4 linked regions of the Homo sapiens genome follow. The protein of the gene in region 2 interacts with the protein of the main gene of each other region in a pairwise test. Each region holds a gene or a part of one and is shown on either strand. Other genes may lie near its edges. The genes, in order: ZDHHC24, SLC71A2, TMEM229B and LEPROTL1.

The links.
Region 1: the proteins of SLC71A2 (region 2) and ZDHHC24 interact in binary tests that used the Homo sapiens proteins (3 or more experiments, as listed by UniProt).
Region 3: the proteins of SLC71A2 (region 2) and TMEM229B interact in binary tests that used the Homo sapiens proteins (3 or more experiments, as listed by UniProt).
Region 4: the proteins of SLC71A2 (region 2) and LEPROTL1 interact in binary tests that used the Homo sapiens proteins (3 or more experiments, as listed by UniProt).

The regions. Positions count from the first base shown.
Region 1 is NC_000011.10:66,542,338-66,550,073, forward strand, and holds the start of ZDHHC24 (probable palmitoyltransferase ZDHHC24), read right to left. Parts: upstream 3,712-7,736; 5' UTR 3,667-3,711; coding exon 3,386-3,666; intron 1,645-3,385; coding exon 1,367-1,644; intron 796-1,366; coding exon of another isoform or gene 671-795; exon of another isoform or gene 1-670. Other genes in the region: ACTN3 (alpha-actinin-3), read left to right, coding at 4,174-4,449. UniProt on the Homo sapiens protein: Probable palmitoyltransferase that could catalyze the addition of palmitate onto various protein substrates.
Region 2 is NC_000009.12:94,377,084-94,384,794, reverse strand, and holds part of SLC71A2 (hippocampus abundant transcript-like protein 1), read right to left. Parts: intron 1-7,711.
Region 3 is NC_000014.9:67,478,338-67,486,048, forward strand, and holds part of TMEM229B (transmembrane protein 229B), read right to left. Parts: intron 1-7,711.
Region 4 is NC_000008.11:30,097,738-30,105,448, reverse strand, and holds part of LEPROTL1 (leptin receptor overlapping transcript-like 1), read right to left. Parts: intron 3,552-7,711; coding exon 3,476-3,551; intron 1,150-3,475; coding exon 963-1,149; intron 1-962. UniProt on the Homo sapiens protein: Negatively regulates growth hormone (GH) receptor cell surface expression in liver. May play a role in liver resistance to GH during periods of reduced nutrient availability.

The sequences.
Region 1 (7,736 bases), on a different chromosome or scaffold from region 2:
GGAAAGCACTGTGGAAGGAAGATGAGGGAGGAAGTTTGCGATGCTGGCAGGAGAATGGTGAGAAGGATGAGCTCTGAGCTGGACGTCGGTGGCGAAGGTGGAAAGGTACAGACGGGCGGTGAGGGCCACGAGCCTGCAGGCTCATGGAGCAGGTGCCAGGGCGTGGAGGAGTAAAAGACGGAGAGAAGAGGAGGTGGGCAGCAGAAAGAGGAAGATGGGTGGTTTGTGAGGGTGACTCATTTTTGGATTCTGACCAGGACTGGGGTGTGGACATGGGAGGAGGGAAAGGAAGGAAAAATGAAGGAGGAGGCCAAGAGCTAAGCCATCCAGGCATTGAGGGGGCTGTTCATGCAAACTTCCAGACACCCTTGATTTCCACAGGGCCCAGGGCGAAGAGAGAGTCTGTGACTGGAGCCAGAGTCTTCCGTGACTGAGGGGAGTGAGTGTTGACCACAAGGTGGTAGGGCAGTGCGGCTGAAGGGCCGGGACTCCTGGAGGGAGGCAGAGGAGGACCCATTGGGAAGCTGGTGTGGGCAGATGAAGATTCTGATAACCCCAGTGGGCCGCTTCCCGAGGCCTCCCCTGGGCTGTAGGTGGGGTCCATGCACAGAGCTGGGCTTGGATAGGATGAGGAGGCACAGTGACTACCCGGAGTAGCCGGGGAGGTTCCTCAACCACAGATCAAAGTGACAGAGGGAACCATGGAAAGGTCAGGAGGAAGGAATGGGGGCGAGAAAGGCCAAAGCATTCTGGGGGTAGAGAACAAAGAGTAAAAAGGACCAGCGAGGCTTCTATCTGTAGATGGGGGAAGAGGAACATATGTGTCGTCTAGAACATGGCATCTCAGGCAGCCTGCTGATCCAAGTCTGCCCTCCCCAGCTTCCCATAACTGGGCCTTCTCCTGCCTGTCACTTTCACTGGCTCCCCACTGTCCAGTCAAATAGGAGCCATCTCCTCACACCAGTTCTCAGGACCCCACCAGCCAGGCCTCCCCTACCAATCTGGCCTTAATTCTCACAATTCCCTGCCCACTCTCCAAGCCTTTGTTCCTATTGCTTCTCTCACTTAGAAATGCTCCTAGAATGCACTTCCACATCCCGCCATGCAGAGACTCCCACGAGTCTTTCTCCTCTCTCAACAACTCCAGGAATCTCCCAATTCTCCAGCCAGAACGCTGCACTTGTCTCAACACACCAGTTTCCATACTGCACCCCCGGGTGAATACCAAGCTGCCCTTACTGGCCATCACTGACACTGGGGCTGGGTCCCCCAGGCCAGAAAGCCCGTCTCCCACCAGAATGGGCTGTACTCCCCAGCCCAATACCAGGGCCCCTGCCTCTGTGCAGAGGCCTCCCAGGCTCCCCACCTGTGAGCAACATGAGCCAGGGAAGCAGGAGGAGGGCAGCCATGTGGAGGGGCGTGTGGGCTCGCAGCAGGGCCGACAGTGCAGGGCCCAGCAGCACAGAGACGTGGAGCAGGACGCCGGCGGCATGAAGCAGCAGGCACAGGAAGGGCCGGTAGTTGCCGAAGCCCACGCAGCGGCCCAGCAGGCGGCAGTGGTGGTCCCGACGCAGGATGCAGACGCGGCAGGCAGAGCAGTGTCCGCTGCGTGGCGGCACCTGGCTTTGGCATTGGTAGCAGTAACTGCAGGAAGGAACCACAGCGTCAGTTCCCCCAGCAGCTCAGATGCCCCATATTGTGCACAGGGCTGCCCCAGAGCCCATCCTGCGGAAGTGGCAACAGCCATTTGCCCTGGCTAAGCCTCAATTTCTTTACAAGTAAATGCAGGCTAAACAAGATGTCCCAGGCCCTTCTAGTTCTAGCACTACAGGTCTGAGGTCTCTTCCAGCCCTAACATCCCCAGTCCTGAGACCTCTCTCAAGCCACTGACATCCAGCAGCAAATCCCTCCCTTCCTCCACGGTCACCCCTTTGTCCAGGTCACTAGGAACTCTCTGGATTACTGCAATAGCCTCTTGACTGGTCTCCGATTCCACCTTTGCCCCACCTCGTACGGTCTCACCCCAGCAACCAAACTGACCCTCCTCTGCTTAAAACCCTCCTGTGGTTCTCCAATTTATTTCTAGTAAAAAGCAAAGCCTTCAGTGTCCTACAACATCCTTCTATCTGTGACATCTCTTCCCCTCTCTTACTGCACTCCAGCCACACTGGCCTTCTTGCTGTTCTGGGAACATACATGCTGGGTACACAACTGCCTCAGAGCCTTTGCACCACTTGTTACCTCTGCCTGGAACACCTTTCCCTCAGATTCCCACATGGCTAACCGCCCCCCACGCCCTCCAAGTTTTTTGCTCAAATGCCTCCTTCTCTATGAGGTCTACCTTGACCACACATTTATGTATATTATTTTAAAAATTAATTAAAAAAAATTTTTAGGGACAGAGTCTCGCTACATTACCCAGGCTGGAGTGTAGTGGTTGTTCACAGGTGTGATCATAGCACACTACAGCCTCAGTCTCAGCAAAAGCCTCTGCCTGGCATAAAATGTGTGTGTAGAGCCTGTACCTGGTGTAATTTTTTTTTCTAATTATAAATTGACAAATTCCAGTTGTATATACTTATGGGATACCAAGTGATGTTATGATTTATCAGTACAGCTTGGAATAAATCAAGCTAATTAGGATAGCCATTACCTCAAACACTCATATTTTTGTGATGAGAATTTACCACCTGTTTATTTATGTATTTATTTATTTGAGACGGAGGGAGTCTTGCTCTGTCACCCAGGCTGGAGTGCAGTGGCTCGATCTCGGCTCACTGCAACCTCCGCCTCCCAGGTTCAAACAATTCTCTTGCCTCAGCCTCCCCAGTAGCTGAGATTACAGGCACGTGCCGCCATGCCCGACTAATTTTTTTATATTTTTAGTAGAGACGGGGTTTCACCACGTTGGCTAGGCTGGTAAACTTCTGACCTTAAGTGATCCGCCGGCCTCGGCCTCCCAAAGTGCTGGGATTACAGATGTGAGCCAACGCACCCGGCCTAACCACCTATTTAATATTGAAACTTGCAACCCCTTTACCCTGCTCTACTTCTTGTTTCCAAACTACTATCACCTTCTAGCATTCTATATGATTTGCTTATTATTCCTCTAGTTTCTCATCTGCACCCCCCTCAAATCAGGAATTTGTTCTATTGTACCCTTCGTCCCTGTAACAAAACCTTGCACCTAGTAGGCTCCCAATAAGTATTTGCGAGTAAATAAATAACACTCAATTCTAGCTCTTCCATCCCAGGTTCTAAAAAAATGTCTGATTCTAACAACCTGGATCCTAATGTAACCCGGTTCTAACATCTCAGGTCTTGGGGCCCCTCCCCCCTGTCCAAGGCTCCCACTTCTCCCCGCCCGATCCCGCACCCCACTCACGCCCAGCCCTGGCCCAGACCGCGGCCGGCCAGCATCACGCCACGGATGCTGGGATCCGAGCGCAGGAAGAGCCCCACGTTGCCCAGCAGGTTGAGCAGCTGGAAGGCGGCCAGCGCCAGCTGCAAGGCCCGGGCCAGGGGTCCCAGCGGCGGCGGCCCGGGACCGAGCACCAGCACGTAAGCCAGCTCCAGGCCCACGGCCGCGGCCCACAGCGCGGTGAGCACGAGAGGCAGCTGCGCGGGCGCCCCGTCCGTGCTCCCAGCCGCCCAGGGCTGCCCCATGGCCTGGACACCCAGCTGTCGGAGCCGGAGGACTAGGCCGCTTCCGTATTGGGGCGGAGATAGCGGCAGACGGACGTCTGCTACGGCCAATAGAAGCTCGGAAGGGGGTGCGGCGAGCGCTCAGACTCTCAGGGAACGGCCGGCCCACGCGGCGAGTTGATCTGGCCAACGGACCAGCAGTGGAGGCGCTCGGAATCCCGCGGCGCTGGAGCCCGGATAACGCCGCGGAGTGATTGACCCGCCCACCCTGGAGGCTCCTCCCATCCCGTCGGAGCCCCGCCCGCTGGCGCGGGGGCCAGGAGTGCCCGGGGGATTGAGTTGCAGCCGGGGTGGTGTCGGGGTTTCCCGGCTCAGCACATTCTCCCCTACTCCCCACAGCCGCCCCGATATTAATAGCCCTGCCGCAGCCCATCCAGCTGGCTCAGAGCCGTTCCCCATGCCCGGGTGTCTCCATCACCCCAGAAAACATGCAAAACAGCTCGGCGCCTCTGTGTTCCTGACTGTGAAATGGGGATAGGGCTCTGTGTCCCACCAGCGAGGTGCTGGAAGAGGCTCACGAGGAGCTCCAGAGGGCAGCCTCTAGAGCGGCCCGCGGCCACTATTATTATCGGCCTTTCTATTGTGGAGAGGAGTAAACAGACTCAGAGAGGTCCCGTGGATTTCTCAAGGTCACACAGCGCCCCAGCAGCGGAGCAGGAATGCAAACCCAGGATCTCCGCCGCGAGATCCACCCCGGCGCCCCCGAGTCCCGCAGTTCCCGGCTTCAGGACAACCCCTTGCCAGGTCCAACCCGAGCTCCTTCACCCCCATCCGGCCCCTCCCTCCTCCCCCATATTTAGTGCGAATTCGATCTGGGGCTGGGCTGGGCCCTACTTAATGGGGCCCGGGTGTCCGAGAGCGTGCCGAGCGGAGCGAAGCCAGGAGCCCGATCGAGATGATGATGGTTATGCAGCCCGAGGGTCTGGGGGCCGGGGAGGGGCGCTTTGCGGGCGGCGGCGGGGGCGGCGAGTACATGGAACAGGAGGAGGACTGGGACCGCGACCTGCTGCTGGACCCGGCCTGGGAGAAGCAGCAGCGGAAAGTGAGTGCTCGCCCATTTCCTGACAGCAAAACCGAGGCCTGAGAGGCCGGGCTGTTTGTCCTGGGCATCTCAGCAGTGCAGGGGCAGAGCTTGTCTTTAACCTAGAGTGCTAATCCCCAGCCCAGGCTCTGCCCATCAGCTGCCTGCTGTCCCCAGGGCTGGAGGAGAGGGCTGGGAGCCCTCAAGAGGGGTTTAAAATGACAAGAGAGTTTCTGGGCTCCCCACCCCCACCAGGGTTCATTCCCCTGGGCCCACTGCCCCACTTCTGCTGCTGAAAACAGGCTGGGCAAACCCCAGGAGATCCAAGTTAGGGGGGGTTCAGAAAGAAGAATCTTCTTCTAGTTAAATATTCCCAGACCCCACCCTGAAGGCTTGCAGTCAGGCAACTAGTGGACTTGGGAGTGTGGGGGTAGTGAGAAGGGTCCTCTCAGACCCCACCCCACCTCGTCTCCAGGGTGGGGTCCATAGTCGCTGTATCTCATTTAACAATTGAAGAAACTGAAGCCCAGAAAGAGCACAGACAGGCCCCACATCACAGACTGTCAGACATCAGGACCCCCGCAACCTGAGGATCTTTACCCTTTTCCCTACCCCCATTCTTTCCCAAGATACCCCAGGCATGGGGCCCTGAGTCTGCTGAAAAGGCCATAGGTCGGGGAGGAGGGGAGACCTGGGTCCCCTTACGCTGTAACCTGACTCTCCAGCCAGATGGACACTTAGTGCTGAGGCAGCACCTCGGGGGCGCCAAAGAGGGGCACAGGGGCAGCTGCTACCCAGGCCCAGCCCGTTGGGCACTCAGGGCCCCTCCCTCCCTGAGCTATTTTCACTCCCAGACTTTCCCAAGTAGAGGGGGCAGGACACCTGGGTTCCCAAAGGGAAAATGATCCAGGCCAGAGGGAGAATACTTTGGAGAGTGGCAGGCCAGGGGTAACCAGGAGGGCACTATGAGGCCATTGGACCCTGCTCAGCGTGTGCCAACACTGTATGACTCCAGGAGAGGGCAGGGTACTGGGGTACTCAGTGGAATTTAAATGACCTGAGAGTCCCAGAATTTAGAATCAGAGTACTTCTGCTGGGTTAGATGACAGGAGATGACCCCAAGGGCCGAGAGGCTCCGCTGACTCGGCTGGGGTGCCCCGGGTGACAGGCCTCCCCTTAGGCTCCCCCTGCACCTGTCTCCAAGCACGGCTGCAGTCCCAGGTTTGGCAATTTCCCGGTGGTGTCATCCCTGTCCTTGGCTCCAGCTGCCACCTGTTCTGCAACATCTCCTATCCCTACCCCCACCCACCCGGGCCTCTCCGAGATCCAGGTCTGCGTGCCCCCCATATGACACGTGCCAGTCTGTAACTTGCCTTTGTCACCTAACAAATTATCAGGAACATCTGTTCATCCCAACTTGCAGTCACCATCTCATCATCTACTCATTCAATGGCTGGCACAGCATAGAGGATCTGAAAATCAATCAGCATCCCTTGTAGTTGGACATTTGGCTCATTTCTTTCTTGTCCAGCGTTGTTTATTGCAAGGTGGTAATAAACATCCTTGTGCTCAGCTTTAGCCCTGACCCCTCCCTGTTGCTCTATGCTCCCTTTCTCCCCAGTGACTCCTCCATCCAAGGGCTTCCTTCACACAGTCTTGGAGCAGCACGCTGCCTCCTCCCACCTGATGTCTTACCATGTGCCAGCGCTGTTTCAGGTGCTGGAATTCGGCAGCAGACAAAATAAAGCCCCTGCCATGGGAGCTTACATTCCAACATTTCTGTCTCATCCATCCAATCCTGCCTTGTCCCCCACACTGACACCCTTCCTCTCTTGCCCTGATCCCAGTGACTGCGTCCTCACTTCTGCCTTCTGCCACGCCAAGCCATTCATCTCCACTCTGCAACCAGCATGGACAGTTCTGCCCACCTCCCTCCTGCCTGAGGCTTCCCTGACTCTCTGTTGCCCTCCGGATCAAATTTTAACTCCCCAGCTTAGCACCCAAGATCACACATGACCTGGCTCCTGCTGCCCCTCCGGCCTGCCTCTCACCACTTATACCCCAACAATCCCAGCTCCATTCCAGCAGTGCCCAGATCCTTGTAGTCTGACAAATGTAGCAAGTGTTTCTCACAGCCACCGAGCACTTGCCTGCATGGCAGCCCCTGCCTGAAATGCCCTTGCCTGCCCTTCCCTTCCTGAATAATTCCTGCCCATCACAGCTCTGATCAAATACTCGCCTTCCCCAAGAGGGGACCCTGATCCGCAGCGTCCCTCCCATAAATTCCTCGGCAACCTCTTACAGCGCTTCTCAGACCAAAATGACTCTTGGATGGACTGTGAGCTCCCTTAGGGCAGGAACCACATCTCATTAAGAGTCTTGTTTGGGCTGGGAGTGGTGGCTCATGCCTGTAATCCCAGCACTTTGGGAGACGGAGGGGGGCGGATCACCTGAGGTTGTAAATTCAAGATCAGCCTGACCAATATGGAGAAACCCCATCTCTACTAAAAATACAAAATTAGCAGGGCGTGGCGACGCATGCCTGTAATCCCAGCTACTTGGGAGGCTGAGGCAGGAGAATCGCTTGAACCAGGGAGGCAGAGGTTGCAGTGAGTAGAGATCGCACCATTGCACTCCAGTCTGGGCAACAAGCGCGAAACTCTGTCTCCAAAAAAAAAAAAAAAAAAAAAAAGAGTCATGTTTGGCACCACCCAGACCTGCCTATCCCCCTGCCCTTTCCAAACTCAAAGCATCTTAGACTCCAGGGTTGGAGGGAACTGTGGGAAATCTAACTGCCCTATTCAGTGCTTAGGTTCCCATCAAGTTGTACTCAGTGTCTACTTACATACCTCCAGTGATGGGAAGCTCACTCCCTTTCCTTAGCAATGACAGCCCCTCAAGTATTTAACGCATCATCTTCCATGTCCAGCTCCCAGGGCATCTGGCAAGCTGGTCTGAGGAAGGAAAGGTGGCTGAGGGGAAGAATTCCAAATGGCTCCCAGGGCCACCT
Region 2 (7,711 bases):
TCCCACCTCTTAATACTATTACAATGGCAATTAAGTTTCAAAGTGAGACATTCGCACCATAGCAGGGAGTTAATATCCAGAATATATGTATAAAGAATTTTACAACTCAACAATAAAACAAAACGCAAATGACCCAATTTAAAAATGGGCAAAGAGGCCAGGAATGGAGGCTCATGCCTGTAATCCCCGCACTTTGGGAGGCCAAGGCGGGTGTATCACTTGAGCCCAGGAGTTTGAGACCACCCTGGGTAACATGACAAAACTGCAACTCTACAAAAAATACAAAAATTAGCTGGGCCTGCTCGTGCGCGCCTGTACTCTCAGCTACTTGGGAGGCTGAGGTGGGAGGATCGCCTGAGCCTGGGGAGGTCGAGGCTCCACTGAGCCGTGATCATGCCACTGCACTCCAGCCTGAGCAACAGAGAGAGAGACCATGTGTCCAAAAAAAAAAAAAAAAAGGAAAATTTGACACACGGCACACATGGACAAACCTTGAGGACATTATGCAAGATGAAATAAGTCAATCACAAAAAGATAAGGATGAATATGGTATGATTCCATATATATGAGGTATCTAAAGTAAGTCAAACACATAGAAACAAAGGAGAATGGTGGTTGTCAGGGAATGGGAGGATGGCAAAAAATGGAGTTGTTGTTTCATGGGTATAGAATTTGTTTTGAAAGAAGAAGTAGTTCTGGAAATTGGCTGCAGAACAATGTGAATATACTTACACTACTGAAGTCTACACTTAAGAATGGTTAAGATGGTAACTTCTTTGCTATGTGTATTTTACCACAATTAAACAATTTTTTAAAAATCAACCGTATTTCTATATGCTGGCAACAAACAATTGTGAATTTAAATTTTAAAAAATTACATTTATGTAATGATACCATTTACAATAACGTCAAGAAATATGAAACGGAATAATCTGACAAAAGATGGGAAAGACATGTCAACTGAAAACTACAAAACTCAGCTGAAAGAAATTACAGATCTAAAATAAATGGAGAGATACTACATTCATGCATCAGAAGACTTGATCAATTCTTTCCAAACAGATCTTCACGGCAAAAGAATACCAATAACAATCCCAAAAGGCTTTCTTGTGGAAATTGCCAGGCTAATTCTAAAATGCAAAGACCCAGAATCACTAAAACGACTTTAAAAAATAACAAGATTGGGGGACTGTTAGTTTTCAAGTCTTATGAACCTCCAGTAATCAAGACTGCAGGGTACTGATGTAAAGACAAATAGATCAAAGGAACAGAATAAAGAGTTCAGAGACTGACTAATATATGGACAATTGATTTTTGACAAAGATGCAAAAGTAGACCAGGCATGGTGGCTCACACCCATAATCCCAGCACTCTGGGAGGCCAAGATGGGTGGATAACGAGGTCAGGAGTTCGAGACCAGCCTGGCCAACATGGTAAAACCCTGTCTCTATTAAAAATACAAAAATTAGCCAGGTGTGGTGGCGTGCGCCTGTAATCCCAGCTACTCAGGAGGCTGAGGCAGGAGAATCGCTTGAACCTGGGAAGTGGAGGTTGCAGTGAGCCGAGATTGCGCCACTGCACTCTAGCATGGGCGATGGGACAAGACGCCATCTCAAAAAAAAAAAAAAAAAAAGATGTAAAAGCTATTCAATGAATAAAAACATATTTTTCAGCAAATGAACAACTGTTCATAAACAAATAATTTCCATCCTTATTTTGCACCATATAAAAATGTAATCAAAATTAAACACAAACCCAATTGTAAAATCTAAAACTATAAAGCTTCCATAAACATAGAAGGAAGGCCAAGCACAATGACTCACGCCTGTAATCCCAGACTTTGGGAGGCCGAGGCAGGTGGATCACGAGGTCAGGAGATTGAGACCATCCTGGCTAGCGCGGTGAAACCCCGCCTCTACTAAAACTGCAACTCTACTAAAAATACAAAAAATTAGCCAGGCGTGGTGGCGGATGCCTGTAGTCCCAGCTACTCGGGAGGCTGAGGCAGGAGAATCGCTGGAACCCGGGAGGCAGAGATTGCAGTGAGCTGGAGATTGCAGTGGGCAGAGATTGTGCCACTACACTCCAGCCTGGGCGACAAAGAAAGAGACTCCGTCTAAAAAAAAAAGAAAAAATAGAAGGAAATTCCTATGATTTGGGATTAGGCAACAATTTCTTAAATATGAAACCAAAACCCTGATCTATAAAAGAGCAAATTGATAAATTTCATCAAAATTTAAAATTCCTGTTCTTCAAGACACTGCTGAGAGAATGAAAAGATGGACCACGGCCTAGAGAGAATGTATTTGCAAATCATTTGACGAGGGACTTGCATCCCAAATATGTAACGAATTCTCAAAACTCAATTACAAGAAAACAACCAACCAACAACAACAACAAAAAATAGGCAAAAGACAAGAACAGACACTTTGCCAAAAGGGATATACAGAAGACATATAAGTTTAGGGAAGTTGGGCACATGGCTCACACCTGTAATCCCAGCACTTTGCGAGGCTGAGGCAGGTGGACGACTTGAATCCAGGAGTTCAAGACCAGTCTGGGCAACATAGTAAGACCCCATCTCTATAAAAAATTAAAAAATTAGCTGGGTATGGTGGCATATGCCTGTAGTCCCAGTTACTCGAGAGGCTGAGGTGGGAGAATTACCTGCGCCCAGGAGGTCAAGGCTGCAATGAGCCAAGATCACGCCACCGCACTCCAGCCTGGGCAACCAAAGTGAGACTCTGCCGGAGGAGGAAAAAAAAAAAAACTTATGGAAAGATACTGAATGCCACTAGCCATAGGGAAGCACAAATTAAAAGAACAATGAGACATCACTAAAGACCAATTGGAAGGGCTAAAATTGGCCAGGTGTTGGTAAGGATATGGATGAACTAGAATTATCATACAGTGCTAGCTGCAATGTACAACTGTACAATTACTTTTAAAATAATTAGTTTGGCAATTTATTTTATTTTATTATTTTTTTAAAGACGGAGTCTTACCATGTTGCCCAGGCTGGTCTCAAATCCCTGGGCTCAGGCAATCCTCCTGCCTCGGCCTCCCAAAGTGCTGGGATTACACGCATGAGCCACCATGCCCAGCCAACAGTTTCTTAAAAAGTTAAATACATCTACCATATGACCCAGCCATTTCACTCCTATTTACTTTTAAAAAAGTGTATTCTGTACAAAGATTGGCACACAGATGTTCACAGCAGCTTTATTTGTAATAGCCAAAAACTGGTGAGAAGCCGAAAGTCCATCAACAAGGGAATGTACAAATCGTGGTTCATCCACAAATGGACTACTACTCAGTAATTAAAAAGAATGAACTACCGATTTACATAACACTGATAAATCTCAAAATAATTTATGCTGAACTTTTTAAAAGCCAAAGAGGAGAATATGCTGTATTTATAAAATAACAAAAAAAAAAAAAAGCTAGAAAATTCAAACCAGCTGGGGGCAGTAGCTCACGCCTGTAATCCCAGCACTTTGGGAGGCCGAGGCGGGCGGATGGTCTGAGGTCGGGAGTTTGAGACCAGCCTGACCAACATGGAGAAACCCCGTCTCTACTAAAAATACAAAATTAGCCTGGCATGGTGGCGCATGCCTGTAATCCCAACTACTTGGGAGGCTGAGGCAGGAGAATCACTTGAACCCAGGAGGCGGAGATTGTGGTGAGCCGTTATCACGCCATTGCACTCCAGCCTGGGCAACAAGAGTGAAACTCCATCTCAAAAAAAAAAAAAGGGGGAAGAAAATTCAAGCCAATATATAGTGACAGAGTAGATAAATTATCGCCTGGAAATGGAGGTGTAGAGGGAGGTAAAAAGAAACATTTGAGGGTGATGAATATGTTTACTATCTTGATTATGATAATGGTTTCACAGGTGTATAGATATGTCACAACACAAAACTGTGCACTCCAAACACACAGTTTATTTTATGTCAATTAAACTGAATAAGGTTGTTTAAAAAAGACAAGCAAATACAAAGCTAACTATAAAAAAGTCAGACTAATGCTGGGCACAGTGGCTCACACCTGCAATCCCAATGCTTTGGGAGGCCAAGGCAGGAGGATTCTTTGAAGCCAGGAGTTCGAGACCAGCCTGGACAACAAAGCAAGAGCACATCTCTACAAATAAAAATTTAAAAATTAGCCAGGCATGATGGGACGTACGTGTAGTCCCAGCTACCAGGAGGCTGAGGCAGGAAGATCACTTGAGCCCTGGAGTTCCCGGGTGCACTGAGCCATAATCACACCACTGCACTCCAGCCTGGATGAAACAGTAAGACTCTTGTCTCAAAAATAAATAAATAAATACACATTAAGAATAGATTTCTCTCCAATTCTCACAGAACAATGCTCTTGCTATGCCATAACCTCTTTCTCCATAGCATATCTAAGATTTCATAACCACTTGTGAAAGTTCTATGACATGCTGAACTGGAGGAAGGGAAGAGGAAAAGGGGAAGAGAGAACACATGTAAGAAACTGAGAAATTTCTTTTTTTTTTTTGAGAAAGAGTCTCGCTCTGTCGCCCAGGCTGGAGTGCAGTGGCACGATCTCTGCTCACTGCAAGCGTGGTCCACCTCCCAGATTCACGCCATTCTCCTGCCTCAGCCTCCCAAGTAGCTGGGACTACAGGCGCCCACCACCACGCCTGGCTAATTTTTTGTATTTTTAGTAGAGACAGGGTTTCACCGCGTCAGCCAGGATGGTCTCAATCTCCTGACCTCGTGATCCGCCTGCCTCAGCCTCCAAAAGTGCTGGGATTATAGGCGTAAGCCACCGCGTCCAGCTGAAACTGAGAAATTTCAAAAATGCTTCCATAGGGTAATAAAGCATGTTTACGTGTATACAGCCAAAAGGATACCTAACAGTAAGAAAAAATTAATGTATTCCTGTTACGTAGAGGAGGTTGTATGCACTTTTACCATTACCATTGAATACTTTCCTGGATATTCTAGTTCATTTAACATCAAAATAAGATATAAAATTATCAACACGTGCAATATTTGTGAATATTTATCCAGAAGATCCTACAAAATTAAATATTTTTTGAAAGACAAAGCACAAGTTATCAATGCAGAGTACCAGCCAGGCATGGTGGCTCATGCCTATAATCCCAGCACTCTGAGAGGCTGAGGCTGGAGGATTACTTGAGGCCAGGAGTTCAAGACAAGCCTGGACAACACAGTGAGACCCAATCTCTACAAAAAAATTTAAAAACTAGCCAGGCATAGTGCCACGTGCCTATAGTCCTTGCTACTAGGGAGGCTGAGGCAGGAGGATCATTTGAACCCAGGAGTTTAAGGTTACAGCAAGCTATGATTGTGCGCCACCGCACTCCAGCCTGGATGACAGAGTGAGGCCTCACCTCTTAAAAAAAAAAAAAAAAAGGGCCAGGCGCAGTGGCTCACGCCTGTAATTCCAGCACTTTGGGAGGCCAAGGCAGGTGGATCGCCTGAGGTCAGGAGTTCAAGACCAGCCTGGCCAACATGGTGCAACCCCATCTCTACTAAAAATACAAAATTATCCGGGCATGGTGGCACAAGCCTGTAATCCCAGCTACATGGGAGGCTGAGGCAGGAGAATCGCTTGAACCCGGCAGGCAGAGGCTGTAGTGAGCCAAGATCACACCATTGCACTCCAGCCTGGGCAACAACAGTGAAACTCCGTCTCAAAAAAAAAAAAAAGGAAATGCACACCAAGAATCCCTACAGAAGGTGAAAAGAGCCTACGAGGTCATTATTCACAGCTTTATGCCAACTAATTTGACATTTTAGATAAAATGGGCAAATTCCCAACAAAACACAACTTACTGAAACTGACAGAACTAAAAATCAAACAGAAAACCTACGCTGTTCTAGAATTAATCTCCAAAAGGCCAAGAACTATAAAGTTCTAGAACTGTATTACCAATCTTACACAAATTCTTCCACAGAATAGAAAACCAAACTATCCAATTTGTTTTTAAGGCAGATAGCATTTGGATATCTGTCTCCTCCAAATCTCATGTTGAAATGTGACCCCCAGTGTTGGAGGTGGGGTCTAGTGGCAGCTGTTTGGGTCATGGGGGCTGATCTCTTCTCAATTGTTTGGTGTCCTTCTCACAGTAATGAGTGAGTCCTCGCTCCATTAGTTACCACAAGATCTGATTGGTTTTGTTTATTGTTTGTTTTTGAGACAGAGTCTCACTCTGTCACCCAGGGTGGAGTGCAGTGGCGCCTCCCAGTTTCAAACAATTCTCCTGTCTCAGCCTCCCAGGTAGCTAGGACTACAGGTATGCACCATCACACCCGGCTAATTTTTGTATTTTTAGTAGAGATGGGGTTTCACTATGTTGGCCACGCTGGTCTCCAACTGCTGACCTTAAGTGATCCACCGCACGCGGCCAAGATCTCATTGCTAAAAGGAGCCTGGCACCTCCTCCCCTCTCTCTCTTGCTCCCTCCCCAACACGTGATAAGCTGCTTCCCCTTCGCCTTCTGTCCTGATTGCAAGCTTTCTGAGGCCCTCACCAGAAACAGATGCTGGTGCTAAGCTTCCTGTACAGCCTAAAGAACCACTTTTCTTGATAAATTCCCCAGTCTCAGGTATTCTCAGGTATTCCTTTACAGCAACGCAAACAGCTAACATACACCTCCTTTTTTTTTTTTTGGAAATGGAGTCTCGCTCTGTCGCCAGGCTGGAGTGCAGTCTGTCGCCAGGCTGGAGTGCAGTGGCACGATCTCAGCTCACTGCAACCTCCGCCTCCCAGGTTCAAGCGATTCTCCTGCCTCAGCCTCCTGAGTAGCTGGGACTACAGGCGCCTGCCACCATGCCCAGCTAACTTTTATATTTTTATAGAGACAGGATTTCACCATGTTGGCCAGGATGGTCTTGATCTCTTGACCTTGTGATCCGCCCACGTCAGCCTCCCAAAGTGCTGGGATTACAGGTGTGAGCCACCGTGCCCGGCGACACACCTCCCTTTTCTAGAAGGAAATGATCTCTTGGAGTAAATACTTGATTCTCTTTTATTTTTCAGATTATGACATCTCTCTGCCAGTATCTTTTTCTGGTCAATATATCTCTTTGCCAAATAAGGTAGAAAAAAGTTGTCAGGCCAAGCATCATGGCTCTAACCTATAATCCCAGCACTGGGAGGCTGAGACAGGAGGATCATTTGAGCCCAGGAGTTTGAGACCAGCTTGGGAAACAGGAAGACTTCATCTCTACAAAAAATAAATTAAAAAAAAAAAAAAAAAAAAGCCAGGCATGGTGGCACATATCTGTTGTCCCAGCTACTCAGGAGGCTGAGGTGAGAGGACTGCTTGAGCCCAAGAATTTAAGGCTGCAGTGAGCCATGACTGGCCATTGCAGCCTGGATGACAGCAAGACCCTATCTCAAAAAAAAAAACACAGAAAACAAAAAAGAAAAAAGTTATCAGCTGGACAATCTTCCCTGTGATTACTAGTAGCATCTAAGAACCTGAAATCATGAGTGTCACTGAAACCAAGCTGTAAGGAAATTCCAACACATTAAAATGAAATCAATTCATATAGGGGCTATAGGACACAGCACCCGGAGGTGACATTAGAAACTGCAAACAGGAAAAACACATAATTCAGGGGTACTAGCATATGACACAAACATATATGATTAAAAGCATTCACTGTTCTCCCAACGTCCACACACTCAGAAAAACACTGCTACCTGC
Region 3 (7,711 bases), on a different chromosome or scaffold from region 2:
CCACCCTTACCACCTCTTAAATATCTTTGGGATCCATCCCCTCCTCTTCATTACTCTTCTCATTGCTGCCACTGCTCTGGTTCACGCCCTCATCATGTCTCACCTGGATGACTCCAAAGGTCTCCCAGCTTTGCCTTCTTCCTTCTAATTCACTCATCACAGGATGAAAGAGTGTGTAGAAAAAACGCAACCTTTCTAAAATGCAAATCCGATGTTTCTCACCACTTGAAGCCCATGAGTGGATCTTCAACATCTACAGAGTAAATAAAGCTCAAACCCCTGGGGACGGCTGGCAAAGCCCTTCACAACTCGTCCCTGCCTCCAATCCTGTCCTCCAGATCTCTACCTTGCTGTTTTTGCTACCTGGGCCCCACCCAGGGCCGGTGAACCCTCCTTTAAGACCCAGCTCCTCCTCTGTGAGGACTTTCCTAAGCACCCTGACTCCAGAGTTGTCTTCCCACTTCTGCACCCTCCCTTCTCTGTGGTAATAGTGAGCACTCTGCTTCACTGGATTCATCTGAACGCCAGCACCAGCAGCCTCCTGAGGAATGCTTGTTTAAGATAGTGGTAAGAGAAAAAAGCAGGATTCAAAACTGAATATTCAACCTAACTCCGATTCTGCAAAGGCATGCATATGTGCACATATACAAAAAAATTAAACAACAATCATCTCTGGATGGTGATATCATATGTGCTTTTTTTCTTTATATTTTTCTGCATACTTTTTTTTCCTAACAAGCATGTATAACTTTTATAAAACTAAAATTTCATCTTAAAAATGCTTATGGAGGCTGGACGTGGTGGCTCACCCTGTAAACCCAGCACTTTGGGAGGCTGAGGTGGGTGGATCATGAGGTCAGGAGTTCAAGACCAGCCTGGCCAACATGGTGAAACCCTGTCTCTACTAAAAGTACAAAAATTAGCTGGGCGTGGTGGCGTGTGCCTGTAATCCCAGCTACTCGGGAGGCTGAGGCAGAAGAATTGCTTGAACCGGGACCCAGGAGGTGGAGGTAGCAGTGAGCGAGATCGTACCACTGCACTCCAGCCTGGGCTACAGAGCAAGACTCTGTCTCAAAAAAAAAAAAAAATGCTTGTGGAAGCTGGGTGCAGTAGCTCATGCCTGTAATCCCAGTACTTTGGGAGGCCGAGGTGGGTAGATCACCTGAGGTCAGGAGTTCGAGACCAGCCTGGCCAACATGGTGAAACCACATCCCTACTAAAAATACAAAAATTAGCCGGGCATGGTGGCATGCACCTGTAATCCCAGCTACTCGGGAGGCTGAGGCAGGAGAATCGCTTGAACCTGGGAGGCGGAGGTTGCCGTGAGCCGAGATAGCGCCACTGCACTCTAGCCTAGGTGACAGAGTGAGACTCCGTCTCAAAAAAGGAAAAAAAAATGCTTGTGGAATGAATATGTATTCACCGTATTCATACCTCGTGTATAGAAGGTGTTCAATGAATTTGCTAAGCAAATGAACCCAAAGAAACCTGAAGTCATGTAAAATTATTGCAGGCTCTTCCCTCCTGTGTCATCCAACAACAAACCATGCCTCACAGGTCTCAATATGGCCAGCTGGTTAAGTTCAGGGACCCCAGATGATCCTAACTGCCTGGGTTGGAATCCTGGCTGATGCTTTCCACCTGTGAGACCTAATGGACGCTGCCCAACCACCCTGTGCCTCAGGGTCCTTGTAGGTAAAGTGAGGATAACGGAAGTAATGACCACAGAAGGCTGTTGTGAGGACGAATGAACTCGTACATATACACTACTTAAAATACAGCTAAGGCTCCAGAAAGGGCAGCTGTCATTTCTGGCACAGAGCCAGACCTCTGGACAGCCCCTCCTGCTTTTACACCGCCTCTTACCCGATGCAGGGTCACTGTGCCCCTGCTCTCGGCAGCCTCCAGGCAGCCCTTCCTGTCAAGCAGGTTAGGTCTTCATCACAACCCTGAGCACCAAGCTAGCGAGCCAAGAAATCGGGTGGCAATAATAACCCCACATATGGCCCTCAGGAGAACAAAACTCCCACAGACATCCCGGGAGACTGAAGGTGAGCCTCCAGCTTCCCTGTGGCTACCGAGGGATGAATGGAAGAGGAAGGGTGTCAGAGCCAGCCCGAGGGGCAGACTTGAAAAGATGGTGGAATGAAAGGGGCACAGCCTCTCACCCCCTCATTTAACCTCCTACCCCCGGGCAGGAGAGAACAGATCCAGGCTCCAGGGGAACACACTGAGGCGGTCTGAGGGCCTGAGACAGATGGCACAGCACAGGGATGTGGAGACCTCTGGACCTCCTACCCCAACTCAGGCCCCATGACCTGCACGTATCCCCCTGGCTCTTCCAACCCCCAGGGCCCGGGCTGAGGGAACAGGAACCTCACAGGGGCTCTCCTGCAGCAGCCTGACATGACTGTGTGGATCTCATTACTCAGGCCAGACCCCAGCCTTGAAGCTGACTTTAAACCCTGCTCTTCTTGCCTCTGATCTCTCTGGGATGGCCCAGACCGGTTTCCCAGCTGGTAACAGACGGGAGGGTCCAGTCTCTTCCCCAACCCCAGCAAGTAACTTGGGAGAGTCAGATCCCAAAACCCTTGGAGCAGAAGCAAGAAGAAAGGGGTAGCTGTCAAAGGGAGAGAGAAACCTAGGGTGAGAGACAGGAAGTTGCTGAACAGAAGAGAGGATGGAGTTCATGCCTGCAGTCCCAGCACTTTTGGAGGCTGAGGTGGGAGAATAGCTTGAGGCCAGGAGTTCGAGACCAGCCTGGGCAACATAGCGAGACCACCATCTCTACAAAAAGAAAAAAAAGTAGGCTGGTTTGATGTGGTGTGCCTGTAGTCCCAGACGCTAAGGCAGGAGGATCCCTTGAGTTCAAGAGTTTGAGGCTACAGTGAGCTATGATTGTGCCACTGCACTCCAGCATGGACAATGAGCAAGACCCTGTCTCTTAAAAAAGAAAGAAAGAAAGAAAAACAAAAAAGCGAGATGGGGGAGAGAGAAATATGGTGTGCCCCAAGCCCAGATTCTGTTTCTGGGCAGCAGGAAGCCATGGGTAGTAGATGGAGGGGAAGCACACCACGGCAATGTCAGACAGTGTCCGAGGGCAGAACTAGGAGAACATAGCTGGTCCATGCAAGACCAACAGGGGAAATGAAAGACCTGAGTCAGGGCAGAAGATGGGGTTGAAGAGAAAGGAATAGGAGACAGTGTCATTGGCTGAGGTGGCAGCTCCCAGTGTGGTGGGGAAGATGATAATATTAGAGGCTGGGCATTGACTTGGATGCGTTTTCAGAACCCCACTCTCCAAACCCATTTCTAATCAGCACAGGAGCTGTGCTTAACTTTGAGCTAGGACAGGCTCGCCCACCCCATACAGGGCCTGACAGGCCTCTATTCCCTGCCCCGGCCTCCACCCACCCGACTCCCTATATCCTTAGGCTCCTTCCACTAGCTCCTTGCTCAGCCCTGGGATCAGAGCCCTGGGAAAGCCTGCTGCAGGGAGAACCGGCAGCTCAGGGGACCTTGGCTTCTTTCTCCTGGTGACAAACAAAACTGTCCTGAGACCTGTGACATGAAGATAGGACAGCCCAGGAACAGAAATTCAGGGTGGATTGAAGAGGAGGAGAGTGTGAGCAAGGTTGAATGCAGGAGGACAGAGTTTGGAGAGCAAAGGATAGCTTCACAAGCAGGGTTTCATTGAACAACATTCAAATCCGAGAGTCCTCATACCTGATGAAAGGGCCTGGGCAAACAGAGTCCCATCGAAGGGCCAGGACTCAAGGTGACTTGTGAGGTCTAGGAACTACCCCTTCAAGGGAACAGGTGATGGGGAAGGGGAAGGGGATCTGGCTTTCAGAGCCCTGTTCACTAAGAGCATCTCACCGGCTGCTCTCCGAGCCTGCTGTTCCACAGGGTGGCAGGGGACATGGCCAGCAGTTGAGAGGGGTAAAGAGGCTGCCATAAAAGTCTAAGACAGGCTGAAGGCAAAACCAGATGGAATAACTGCCCTTGGTTTTGTCAAAAACTCCCATCTTGTTTCAGGGGGCTAAGGTGCCACAACACAGTGACTCTGGGAATTTTTGTCCAGAGAAGCATCTGGCCAGAAAATTGGGATTCCCCTCCCATGCAACCGGGCTGGGAAGGCCTTCCGCTTTCACTCCACTCACTTCCCAAGCTTCACTCCCCATCCCCAGCCACCCCCATCACTACAGTTCCATGTTCTGGGGAGACCCACAGCCCTTCTAGGAGACCCCTGAGGCAACGCAGCGGGGGACAGCTTCAGGAGCCCTTGGGCGGCTCTGTGCTGAAGATAAGTGGCTTCAATGAGGAAAGGGCAGAAACCTCCCTGAACTTCCCCTGTTGTCATCAAGTTAGCAGGGAGGAAAATAGGGCTTGCCCAGGGCCAGAAGGGAAGCAAGTGGAGGGAAACTCCTGTAGCCACTGGCTGGTGCACATGCTGCAGACTTCCACCCTCTTGCTGTGGGTGCCCCCCAAGGAAAGCCCCTGGGATTAGTGATACTGCAGGCCTTGATGAAGTCCTCCCTCCACCTCCCAAGTCACAGTAATAATAATAACCAGGTGCTCTTCTCAGTATTTCCATGTATTAACTCAAAAAATTCTCAAGCCCATTTTACAGATGGGGAAAGTGAGGCAGAAAGAGGCTACGTTCTTTTTTTGTTTGTTTTTTGTTTTTTTAGATGGAGTCTCACTTTGTCACCCAGGCTGTAGTGCAGTGGTGTGAACTTGGCTCACTGCAACCTCTGTCGCCCGGGTTCAAGCAATTCTCATGCCTCAGCCTCCCAAGAGGCTGGGATTATAGGTTCCTGCCACCACACCCAGCTAATTTTTGTATTTTTAGTAAAGACGAGGTTTCACCATGTTGGCCAGGCTGGTCTTGAACTCCTGACCTCAAGTGATCTGCCTGCCTCGGCCTCCCAAAGTGCTGGGATTATAGGCACGAGTCACCACACCTGGCCGAGCCTACATTCTAATAACTATAAAAGGCAAGGCTGGGATTCAAACCCCACAAATCTGGTTCCAGAGTCTTTGCTCCTAATCAGCACACTGCACTGCCCCCGAGGCTGACTGCAGGCTCCTCTGAGGGCACTACCATTTTCTGAGTTCCTGCTTCTGGAAGGCTGGGATGGTATGTGGAGAGACAACAGGAAGCAAGGAGAAGGTTGTGAACTTCTAGGTGGTTCATTAACAAACTTCCCAACTGGGTGTCAGAGTTCCTAAAGGCTCCCAGCCTGTTCCTCGGGATCCACACAGAGGCCCTCCAGGGTCAAAGCTGACAGTCACAGGACCATGACAGCAACCAACCCTCAGGCCCCAAGGCATGCGCCATTCAAAGGCCCCTCACCAGGACACACACAACCCAGAGGCCCCCTGACTGCCAGCCCACACCAGTGCTCCTGGGAGTCTCAGATGGCCCGGCCCAGCCCTGCCATGGAGACACCAGCCAAGAGCAGGGGCCAGCTGCCCAGAGGAGCAACAGCCAGCATGTCAGGAGGAGCGGTCCGAACACAGAGGATTTCAGGGGGCCTCAGATCCCAAGCAAACCGCAGCAGGAGGCAGGGCAGGGTGAGTGGGCTTGGGGGATGGAGTCAGTTCTGGCACAGAGGTCCCTGGGGCTCAGAAAGCGAAGGATGCCCTGCACGGGGGACTGGCAGGCTGGCATCCCAGACCTGTATGTGGCTGCCTTGCTGTTACCATTCAGATCTCAGCTGAGCTGTCATATCTCAGGGACTTTTGATCCCCAGTCCAAAATAGCCTCTCTGTCACTCACATCATTCCATTTTATTTTCTACATAGCACTTTCACTTTCTGATATGTTGCTACTTATTTATGGTCTGTCTCTCCTCAACTAGAATGAAAACTTCATGAGAGCAGGGGCACTGTCTTGTTCACTGCTGTTTAGTCAGTGCCTAGAGTGGTGCCTGGCAATAATACCTAGTAATACTTGTGGAATGAATGGATGGATGAGTGGGCCCAAACAGGCCCAGGCCCTTAAACACTGATGAGGGCAGGTATAAACAGCTAGCTGCCTCGGTCTCTCTTCCCTCCTTTCTTGAGAAATATAGCCTTCTAAAACATTTAATTCTAGCATTTAATTTTTTTTCTAATTATAAAAGCAACATGTGCTCACAGCTGAAATTTAAACATTACAGAATGACATAGAAAGCAAAAGTTCCCTGTAATCACACATCTTAGAGAAAGTCACTATTAATGGTATGTTGTGTAGTCATCCGGATTCAATTTTATTTTTTAAAAAGCCAATCCATGCATCATAGAAGAAGCATTCATAGGCCGGGCATGGGGGCTCACACCTGTAATCCCAGCATTTTGGGAGGCTGAGGCGGGAGGACTGCTTGAGCCCAGGAGTTTGAGACCAGCCTGGGCAACATAGTGAGACCTCATTTCTAATAAAGAAAAAAAAAGAAAAAGCACTCATAATTCTGAACTAACAGCGATTACCATTTCTCCTTTGCAATATTTTCCTATGTGTGTATTTTACAAGTCACCATAATATACTTATTCTGCAACCTGCCATTTTTACTTGTCATAACTGTTTTTCCAAGTTGTTATATAGCCTCTGTGCTCATTATTATAATGGCTGTGTAATATTCCAGCAAGCGGAAAACTGTAATTTACTTAACCTAGATGTCCAAAGGGAACAGTTGTTTCCCATTTCTACTACTACAGATGATATAACGAGAATTACCTTTAATGCCTGTAATGGAAGAATTCAGCCCTTTTCTTCTCTGGTACTATTTCCTAATAATATATCTTAATGGATAATTCCAGAAGGAGAATCACTGAACCAAACGGTACAACAGCCTTAAGGCTGATGGCATAAATTGCTCTGGGGAGATGTGCCTCCCATCTGAGGAACGACGTTCCCACAGAGGCACCCATGGCCATCTCTTTACCCCCAACTCCCCTCCTACAGTCTAGGCTTGCTCACACCACCCTGGCTACAAATCAACTCAAGAACACACTTCCTGAGAAACTCTCCAGTCAAACTGACTTTGTAAGCCCAGGCTGAGTGGAAAACAGATTCTGGCCCTGAATTATAAACTGTCAACTAGGAGAGTCAAGATCTACCTAAAGTGGAAAAAGACCTGATTACCCCTTTTCTACTCCCTGCAAATTCCTGCATGGAATCTGAAGCTCTGGGTTCCCATGGACCAGCCTAGGAACTCCAAAAAAAGCTTGTCTGTTCAAGATTGCAAAAGCCCAGCTCTGCCTGCCATGCCTTCTGGGGAGCTTCCTTCCTGCAGGCCTCTGATCCCACCAGGCTACGGGCCCTGCACAGACATAACAGCCTTCAGGCCAGACAGGCCTCTGGGGGTTGGGAAAGCAGCCAATTGTCATTTTTTAAGGCATCATCAAGGAAAAGCCAGGGGCTGAGGCTGGAAAGAAAGGCCTGTGAGGACAGGCAGGGCTGTGCAGTTAGGAGCCTCTCACCCTACCTCGAGCTTGTCTCGCTGAGGAGGAGATGCTGCTGCTGATATGTGACAAAAGCAAGAGGACATGCTCCTCCAGATCCCCTGGTGGTCACTCTTATGGCAGCTAAGGCTCACAAATCCCCCCACCTCCCAGGGCCCTGGATGCCCTACTCCAGGCCTCCTAGACCAGCAGCACATGCATTGCTCATGGCTTCTGGGCAGAGTCCAGTCCCAGGTGATGCATGGTCCTCACTGCACAGATC
Region 4 (7,711 bases), on a different chromosome or scaffold from region 2:
GAAATGACCATTCAAAAACAAGCTTGACTTCTGGGCTATGAAGAAGCAGCATAAAATTCTACAAGTTTCTGTTTATAAAGGAATGTGCTTACTCTTCCTTAATATAAAAATCTATCTAGAGTAGATTAAATTTTAGCATATCACAGATGGAAACACACCCATGTACATTCTTTTGAAGGGGTGGGAAAACAATTGCCTTCTCCATATGGCTGTCTTCTCTACCTCCCCAGAGATGAAGGCGCGTGGATCAGTGAGTTTGGGAGGAAGAACTGAGTACCCGTAGCCAGCCCCTTCCCCTCTTCAGTGCTTTTCTGCCTGCAGAGCACATGCACCTTCTCAGGTCTTCCATATTTTAGGTTTTACAGGATAGGCCTGGGTTGTTCAGCACTGGGGGAGTTGATATGCTCAACTCTGACAGTTAAGTATTAGCAAGCCAGACGGGTGCGGTGGCTCATGCCTGTAATCCCAGCACTTTGGGAGGCCGAGGCGGACGGATCACGAGGTCAGGAGGTCGAGACCATTCTGGCTAACACGGTGAAACCTCGTCTCCACTAAAAACACAAAAAATATCAGCTGGGCGTGGTGGCGGGCACCTGTAGTCCCAGCTACTCGGGAGGCTGAGGCAGGAGAATGGCGTGAACCCGGGAGGCAGAGCTTGCAGTGAGGTGAGATCACGCCACTGCACTCCAGGCTGGGCGACAGAGCAAGACTCCATCTCAAAAAAAAAAAAAAAAGAAAAAAAAAAGTATTAGCAAGCCAACAGCTGCTGCAGATCCAAGCCACGTTCTCCAATATCACTTTTATTAGTTAACAAGAACAAACAATAAAGTGAGATTTTAATCTCTATCTTCTAGGCTCTTATGTCTTTCACCTCTTTTCATGTCATTAACAAAAACTTTGCTTGAGAAAAATGTAACACATGTTCAATATAAAATCATTAATGGAAGAATATATTCACTTACCAGATGTGCTCTGGCAAATACAATAGGGAGTCCAAAAGCTGACACGACAATGCCCGTTGTAAGAAAGATGGCAAGTTCCTTACAAGCGTTACTCATAGCATCTGTATCATCCACTAATCTTCTTGCTATGCAGTATGGAATAGGTGAAAGGATGTAAAAAAATAGAACAAAGAGGGGCCAGTATTTGCTAGAAAAAGAAAAATAAGTTAATGTAATTTTTGCTATGTCATTTTCCTACACACAAAATATGGTCTTTTTAAAAAATCAAGATTCAATCGCTTGACTTCTAATGGATGATACCCAACCTTAGCATAAAGCTGAAACAACCCTAAACTTCCCTTACAACACGAGGAACTCCCAAATTACAGAAATCAAAATACAGAAAAGAAGCTAAAAGTAAGAACACTTTCAGTCAGAATATAGAATTTATCACAATAAAAATAGATGGCTTTTACTCTACATCTAGTTAACTGTATTGTACCACAGTCATTTCCTGGTTTTGATAACTATGGTTATGTAAGATCTTATGACTCTGGCAGGCTGTGTGGAGGGTACAGGGGACCTCTGTGTATGATTTTCACAACTTCTTCAGAATCTAAAATTGTTTCAAAATAAAAAGTTAAAAAGAAATAGATGCCCTTAAAACTACCATAGAATAAAATAGGTATCATGGTGGAGATCTGATTGTACAGAGGCTAATGATAAGCAGCTACTTATGTTTCCTAAATTTTTTTTTTTTTTTTTTGAGACAGAGTCTCGCTCTGCTGCCCAGGCTGGAGTGCAGTGGCATGATCTCGGCTCACTGCAACTTCTGCCTCCTGGGTTCAAGTGACTCTCCTGCCTCAGCCCCCGTGACTAGCTGGGATTACAGGCGTGCACCACCATGCCCGGCTAATTTTTGTATTTTTAGTGGAGATGGAGTTTCACCATGTTGGCTAAGCTGGTCTTAAACTCCTGACCTCAGGTGATCCACCCACCTTGGCCTCCCAAAGTGCTAGGATTACAGGCATGAGCCACTGCGCCTGACCATTTCCTAAATATTTTAAGAAAAAAAATTAAAAATTGAATATATGCTTAAGAAAAATAATTCAAACAGTACAAAAGCACAAAAAGTAAAGACTAAAAGTTCCAAATCTCCTCTTGCCCACTTTCCTATTGAGCTTCTCAGGGACCCTTCCACATTTCCACATAAACTTTAAAATATGAATGGGTCCCTGCAGTTTTCTAACAATATGTCTTGAACATATTTACATGTTAGCACTTACAGCTCTTCCTCATTCTTTTTAAGACTGCCTAGTATTTCCATTAAAAGATTTACTATAATTTAACCATTTTTCTTTTGAAGGACATTTAGGATGTTTTCAGAATTTTTTTTGGCTCTTATAAATAACGCATAAAACAACAAAACAAAAACAAAAACCAAAAAATAAACAAGGCTGCTTGAACATCCATACTCTCCCCCACTAAATATATCTTTGTAAACATCTGCAAGTGGGTTTGTATCAGAAAGTCTAACAAGTGAAAGGGCTAACTCAAAGAATATATACTTTGAGAGCTACAAGCAAACTTATCTCCAAGAAAACTATCTATGTGTACTCCCCCCACAGCACAAAAGAGTCCCTGCTTGCCCTGTCTCTTGTCTTTGTCAATAGATTTTGTTTAGTTTTGAGTGAGGCTGGGGATATTTTTATGTGCTTATTAGCAATTTGTAGTTCTCTTTTTGTATTTATTTTTCTATTGAGTTGTCCATCTTTTTCTAATTTATCTAAATGTTAAAATGTTAACTTTGAGAAGTTCTTTCTATCCTAAGGAAAGAAATTTTTTTTTTTTTTTTGGAAACAGAGTCTTGCTCTATCACCCAGGCTGGAGTGCAGTGGCGTGATCTTGGCTCACCGCAACCTCCATCTCCTGGGTTCAGGCGATTCTCCTGCCTCAGCCTCCCGAGTACCTGGGACTACAGGCATGTGTCACCACGCCTGGCTATTTTTTTGTATTTTTAGTAGAGATGGGGTTTCACCATGTTAGCCAGGCTGGTCTTGAACTCCTGACCTCAGGCAATCCTCCCGCCTTGGTCTCCCAAAATGCTGGGATTACAGGTGTGAGCCACCGCACCCGGCCGGAAAGTAATTGTTTACATCTCTCTCTTTTTTTTTAATTGTGTTTTGACTGCTTATGGTATTTTTTTGCAAAAAGACATTTTAAATTTTCTTGTAATTAGTATTATCAATAGATGTTAAAAACTGAGCAGGAGGGCTGAGGTACTGTGTAGCTATCTTGCCACTGCAGACTCAGCAGTAGTGAAAGAGCAGGTAACAGCCAAAAATATTATTTGCATCTTGGTGTCCTAAAATCTTTAGAAACAAACTTTAAGTGGTGATTTTTACAAAGGTATGTGTTTGGTAAGTGAACATTTCTCTGCATTACTTTTACAGTAGTAAAAAAACATTTTTTTAAGCTTTAAAAGTAGAAAAATTTTACCCTTAAATATTCAGAAAGACAAACATTTTACATACTTGTATATTGGAAGGGCACATCCAAGCATCAAAAACATCAGTCCGATTGCTCCTCCAAAGGACAAACTAATCAAAGCTGCAAAGCAAATAAAAAGTGCAACAGGAATATAAATTAAATATTATTTTTATTAATATCAGCAGTCTGAACATTATCTGTAACCTCAGAAGCAAAAATCCCTAAAACGTATTAATAGCAAGTTGCCATCAGAAGTGTAAGTTATCTAGTCTTAGAATAAGTCTTCTGTGGTATCTTCAAGGCAAAATGAAGTGACACTGGCCTTTTTTTTTTTTTTTTTTTTTTTTGTGAGATGGAGTTTCACTCTTGTTGCCCAGGCTGGAGTCCAATGGCTTGATCTCGGCTCACCACAACCTCCACCTCCCAGGTTCAAGTGATTCTCCTGCCTCAGCCTCCTGAGTAAGCTGGGATTACAGGAATGCACTACCACATCCTGTTAATTTTCTATTTTCAGTAGAGATGGAGTTTCTCCATGTTGGTCAGGCTGGTCTCGAACTCCCGACCTCAGGTGATCCACCTGCCTTGGCCTCCCAAAGTGCTGGGATTACAGGCGTGAGCCACCACATCCAGCCAGTGACACCGATTTTTAAAGCTCTAACCTACTGCTAGTACCCCACCATATTCCCCAGACGCTGGTTCCCTTTCTAAAGAGTCAAAGTCCACAGGCTCAATGCTCTTCTGGGCATTAGAATTATATTTACTTCACAGATCACTACAGTTTTGAAAAGCAGTATGTGGAGAAACTCCACATGCTCAAGTTTACTGGACTTTAGAAACCTCATCCTATAGGAAAACCTCTTCTAATCAGCTCCTGTTTCTGGCACATACACTCTCAATGTGCATAAAACTGACCAGAAAAAATGCCCGAGAATATCTGTAGTTAATGATTTTAATCAATTAATTTTGTTGCAAATCTTTAAATAGTTTGCAAAAGTAGAGCTGGGTTTCCTTCCCTAATCTACATTAGAAAATCTGTAGGACAATGGGTTATAATCCTTCTGAGGTATCACTACTTTAACATGTTATTATAAGCAATAGATGCATTCTACAGGTGAAATATAGTTTCTAAAGCTACGCGCGCACACACAGACACACACACACACACACAGCAGTACATTTTAAGGTGCTCTCACGTTAGTGAATAGAAACAACTTTCTTGAATAGGCATAGTTAACCAATGACCTAGACTAAAGCAAAGAAATAAATGATAGCCGAGTGCAGTGGCTCACGCCTGTAATCCCAGCACTTTGGGAGGCCAAGGCGGGCGGATCATGAGGTTGGGGGTTTGAGACCAGCCTGGTCAGTATGGTGAAACCTTGTCTCTACTAAGAATACAAAAAATTAGCTGGGTGTGGTGGCACATGCCTGTAGTCCCAGCTACTTGGGAGGCTGAGGCAGGAGAATTGCTTGAACCCGGGAGGCGTAGGTTGCAGTGAGCCTAGACTGCGCCTTTGCATTCCAGCCTGTGCGACAGAGCAAGACTCCATCTCAAAAAAAATAAATAAATAAGTAAATGATAAATTTATTTTGAGTTCTATATAACCTGTATTTCTACAGTTACAGTGGCTAAGAAAATAACTAGTTTTGTTGTTGTTAGGTCATTTTATTAAAATTCAAAAGTTAAAATTCGAAAGATTTGTAGAAGGTCTAAAAGTTACCAAAACAAAGGCTAACATAGAGAAACCAAAATGAACAGGAAACAAGTTAAACTTTGCCAAGTACTACTGATATACTCTGCACAACTAAAACAGTCATAATCAAGGACACCCCATGACATAGTGGCTTGGCAGATTTGGTTTTTGGTTAGATCGCTGATGCAGGTCATGGCAACCCCGAACACATCACTTAGTCCTGAATACCATTCTATTTCCAGCTACAGGAAAAGAATTGCATTTTTACTTTACAGCAAACGAGGCACTTCAAGTTTACAGGGGAATGCAATATAAACTGTAAGGAAAACACTGAATTTACCATTTGTTTTCTTCAGTTCCAAATTGGTTCTCATGACCGGGCCCTGCCCACCTCTCCTGTGACGTGTCACACCAGGCTACTACAGTGTCCCTGAACCCTCACTTCAGTTATACTGGCCCTCTTTCCTTTCCTGGAAATCAGCAGACTTGCTCACTCACGTGGCCTGTGCACACTTTGTCCCTTCTGCCTCAGACATTTTTTCATTCAAGAAATATTCACTGAGCACTAAATATGTGACAAGCACTAGGGATACAACAGTGAATGAGGCATGGTCCTTTCCCACTCCTCTCTACTTTCCTCCAACTTAACTCCTGCTTTTCCTTCAGATCTCAGCTCAACCAGTGAAGTGTTTTTTTGCTGGTTTTTTTTTTTTTTTTTTTTTTTTTTAAATGGAGTCTTGCGCTGTCGCCAGGATGGAGTGCAGTGGCGCGATCTTGACTCACTGCAACCTCCGCCTCCCAGGTTCAAGCCATCCTCCTGCCTCAGCCTTTCTGAGTAGCTGGGACTACAGCTGTGCACCACCATGCCTAGCTAATTTTTTTTTTTTTTGTATTTTTAGTAGAGACGGGGTTTCACCACATTGGCCAGGATGGTCTCCATCTCTTGACCTCACGATCTGCCCACCTTGGCCTCCCAAAGTGCTGGGATTATAGGCGTGAGCCACTGCACCTGGCCTCAGTGAAGTTTTTCCAAACCTCCTGATTAGACCAATTCCCTGTTATATTTATTTATTCATTCCTCTAACAAACATCTATGGAGCACCTAACGTGTGTCAGATACTGTTCTTGCTACTGGAGACAGAGCAATGACAACAATCAAAGCTTTTGCTCTCACGTTCTAGTGGGAGAAGAAAATGATTTTTAATAAGCAAGTGAATAAATGTCAAGTGATGACAAACGTCAGGTAGAGTAAGGGATGGGAGTGCTAGTCTAGATACAGTGGCCAGGGAAGGCATCTCTGATGAAGCACCACCTGAGCAAAGATCTGTATGAGGGGAGGGAGGAAATCATGTGGGTATTTGGGATGAGTATTCCTGGCAGAGACCCGTGTATGCTGAGGTCCTCTGTTCACTGAATGCCTCTCCTTTGCTCAATTATCAGCTGCGATTTCCTACTGGTTTGTATTTTGTCTTTCCTTCTCAACTGTCCATTTCACGAAAGGAGGGAGCAAGTTTTTCTGTTGTGATGATCGTGCCTGGCTCTTAACACTCAACAAATATTTGTGGAATGAATGTAGCAGAGTGGAAGCAGCATGGAACTGAGACTCTGGAGGGTCCAAGGCCCTAATAGTTACTAACTAGTTGTCCAAGTAATTTATGAGTCTCAGTTCTTCCTTCTCTAAAATGACAGTTGGACTAGATCTTAAATGCAGATAATTTTCTGAACACTAAAGGTACTGTTAAGACAGCTAAGTCCATTACTATAAATACTACCTAGTAACACCTCATTCATTCAGAAGCCATTTATACGCAACTTAGAATCCTGGAGAAAACAAAGGCCACTAAAAAGAGACAAAATAGATGTTACAAAGCCCATATACTAAAGCCAACATTCTCTATAAACAGACCCTTAAGTTCTTATTTATACTAACTCATTTTCGTGACACAATTGTTAGATGGGAATTCAGAGTAAAACACATTTTTATTTTAAAGAATCATCTATGCTCACTTATATATATTTTTCAATAGGTAATTCATATACCCAGAACAAAAATTAAGTGAAAAGGAACTTTCTCTTATCAAAAGTAATCACTATTACCTATATACCTTGTGACACAAAATTTTCTAAGTTTATCTTCCCACACTGAAACAAATGGGAATTAGGAGAAAGAGTTGCATACAAGCAAGAATTGCCCTTTGACAGGAGGGAGGAAACAACAAAAAAAATTTAAACCAGGCAGAAAAATCTCAAAAAGCATGTTCACGGTAATCTCCGCAAGAGGCAAGCCACCTTAGGACCATGAGGGCCTCTGAAGGTGGCTGTTCTGTGACAGAGAACAGTCATTCAAGTTTTTATCAAAAAAGAAGGCCTAAATTCTTTGATTACACTCTTACAAAGTTAATGAAAAATGATTCCTTAAAAAAAAAAAAAAACCAAGGGACTAAAATGAGATAAGGCTCAGGTATCAAAAAACAATTTTAAAAACATAAACCAAGATTGTCTTATTGTAAGTGCTATGAATATGAATACTGGAATAACATTTGTTTGGGGGAATCAAGATACCTTGAGATAATACTTCTACTCCATTAA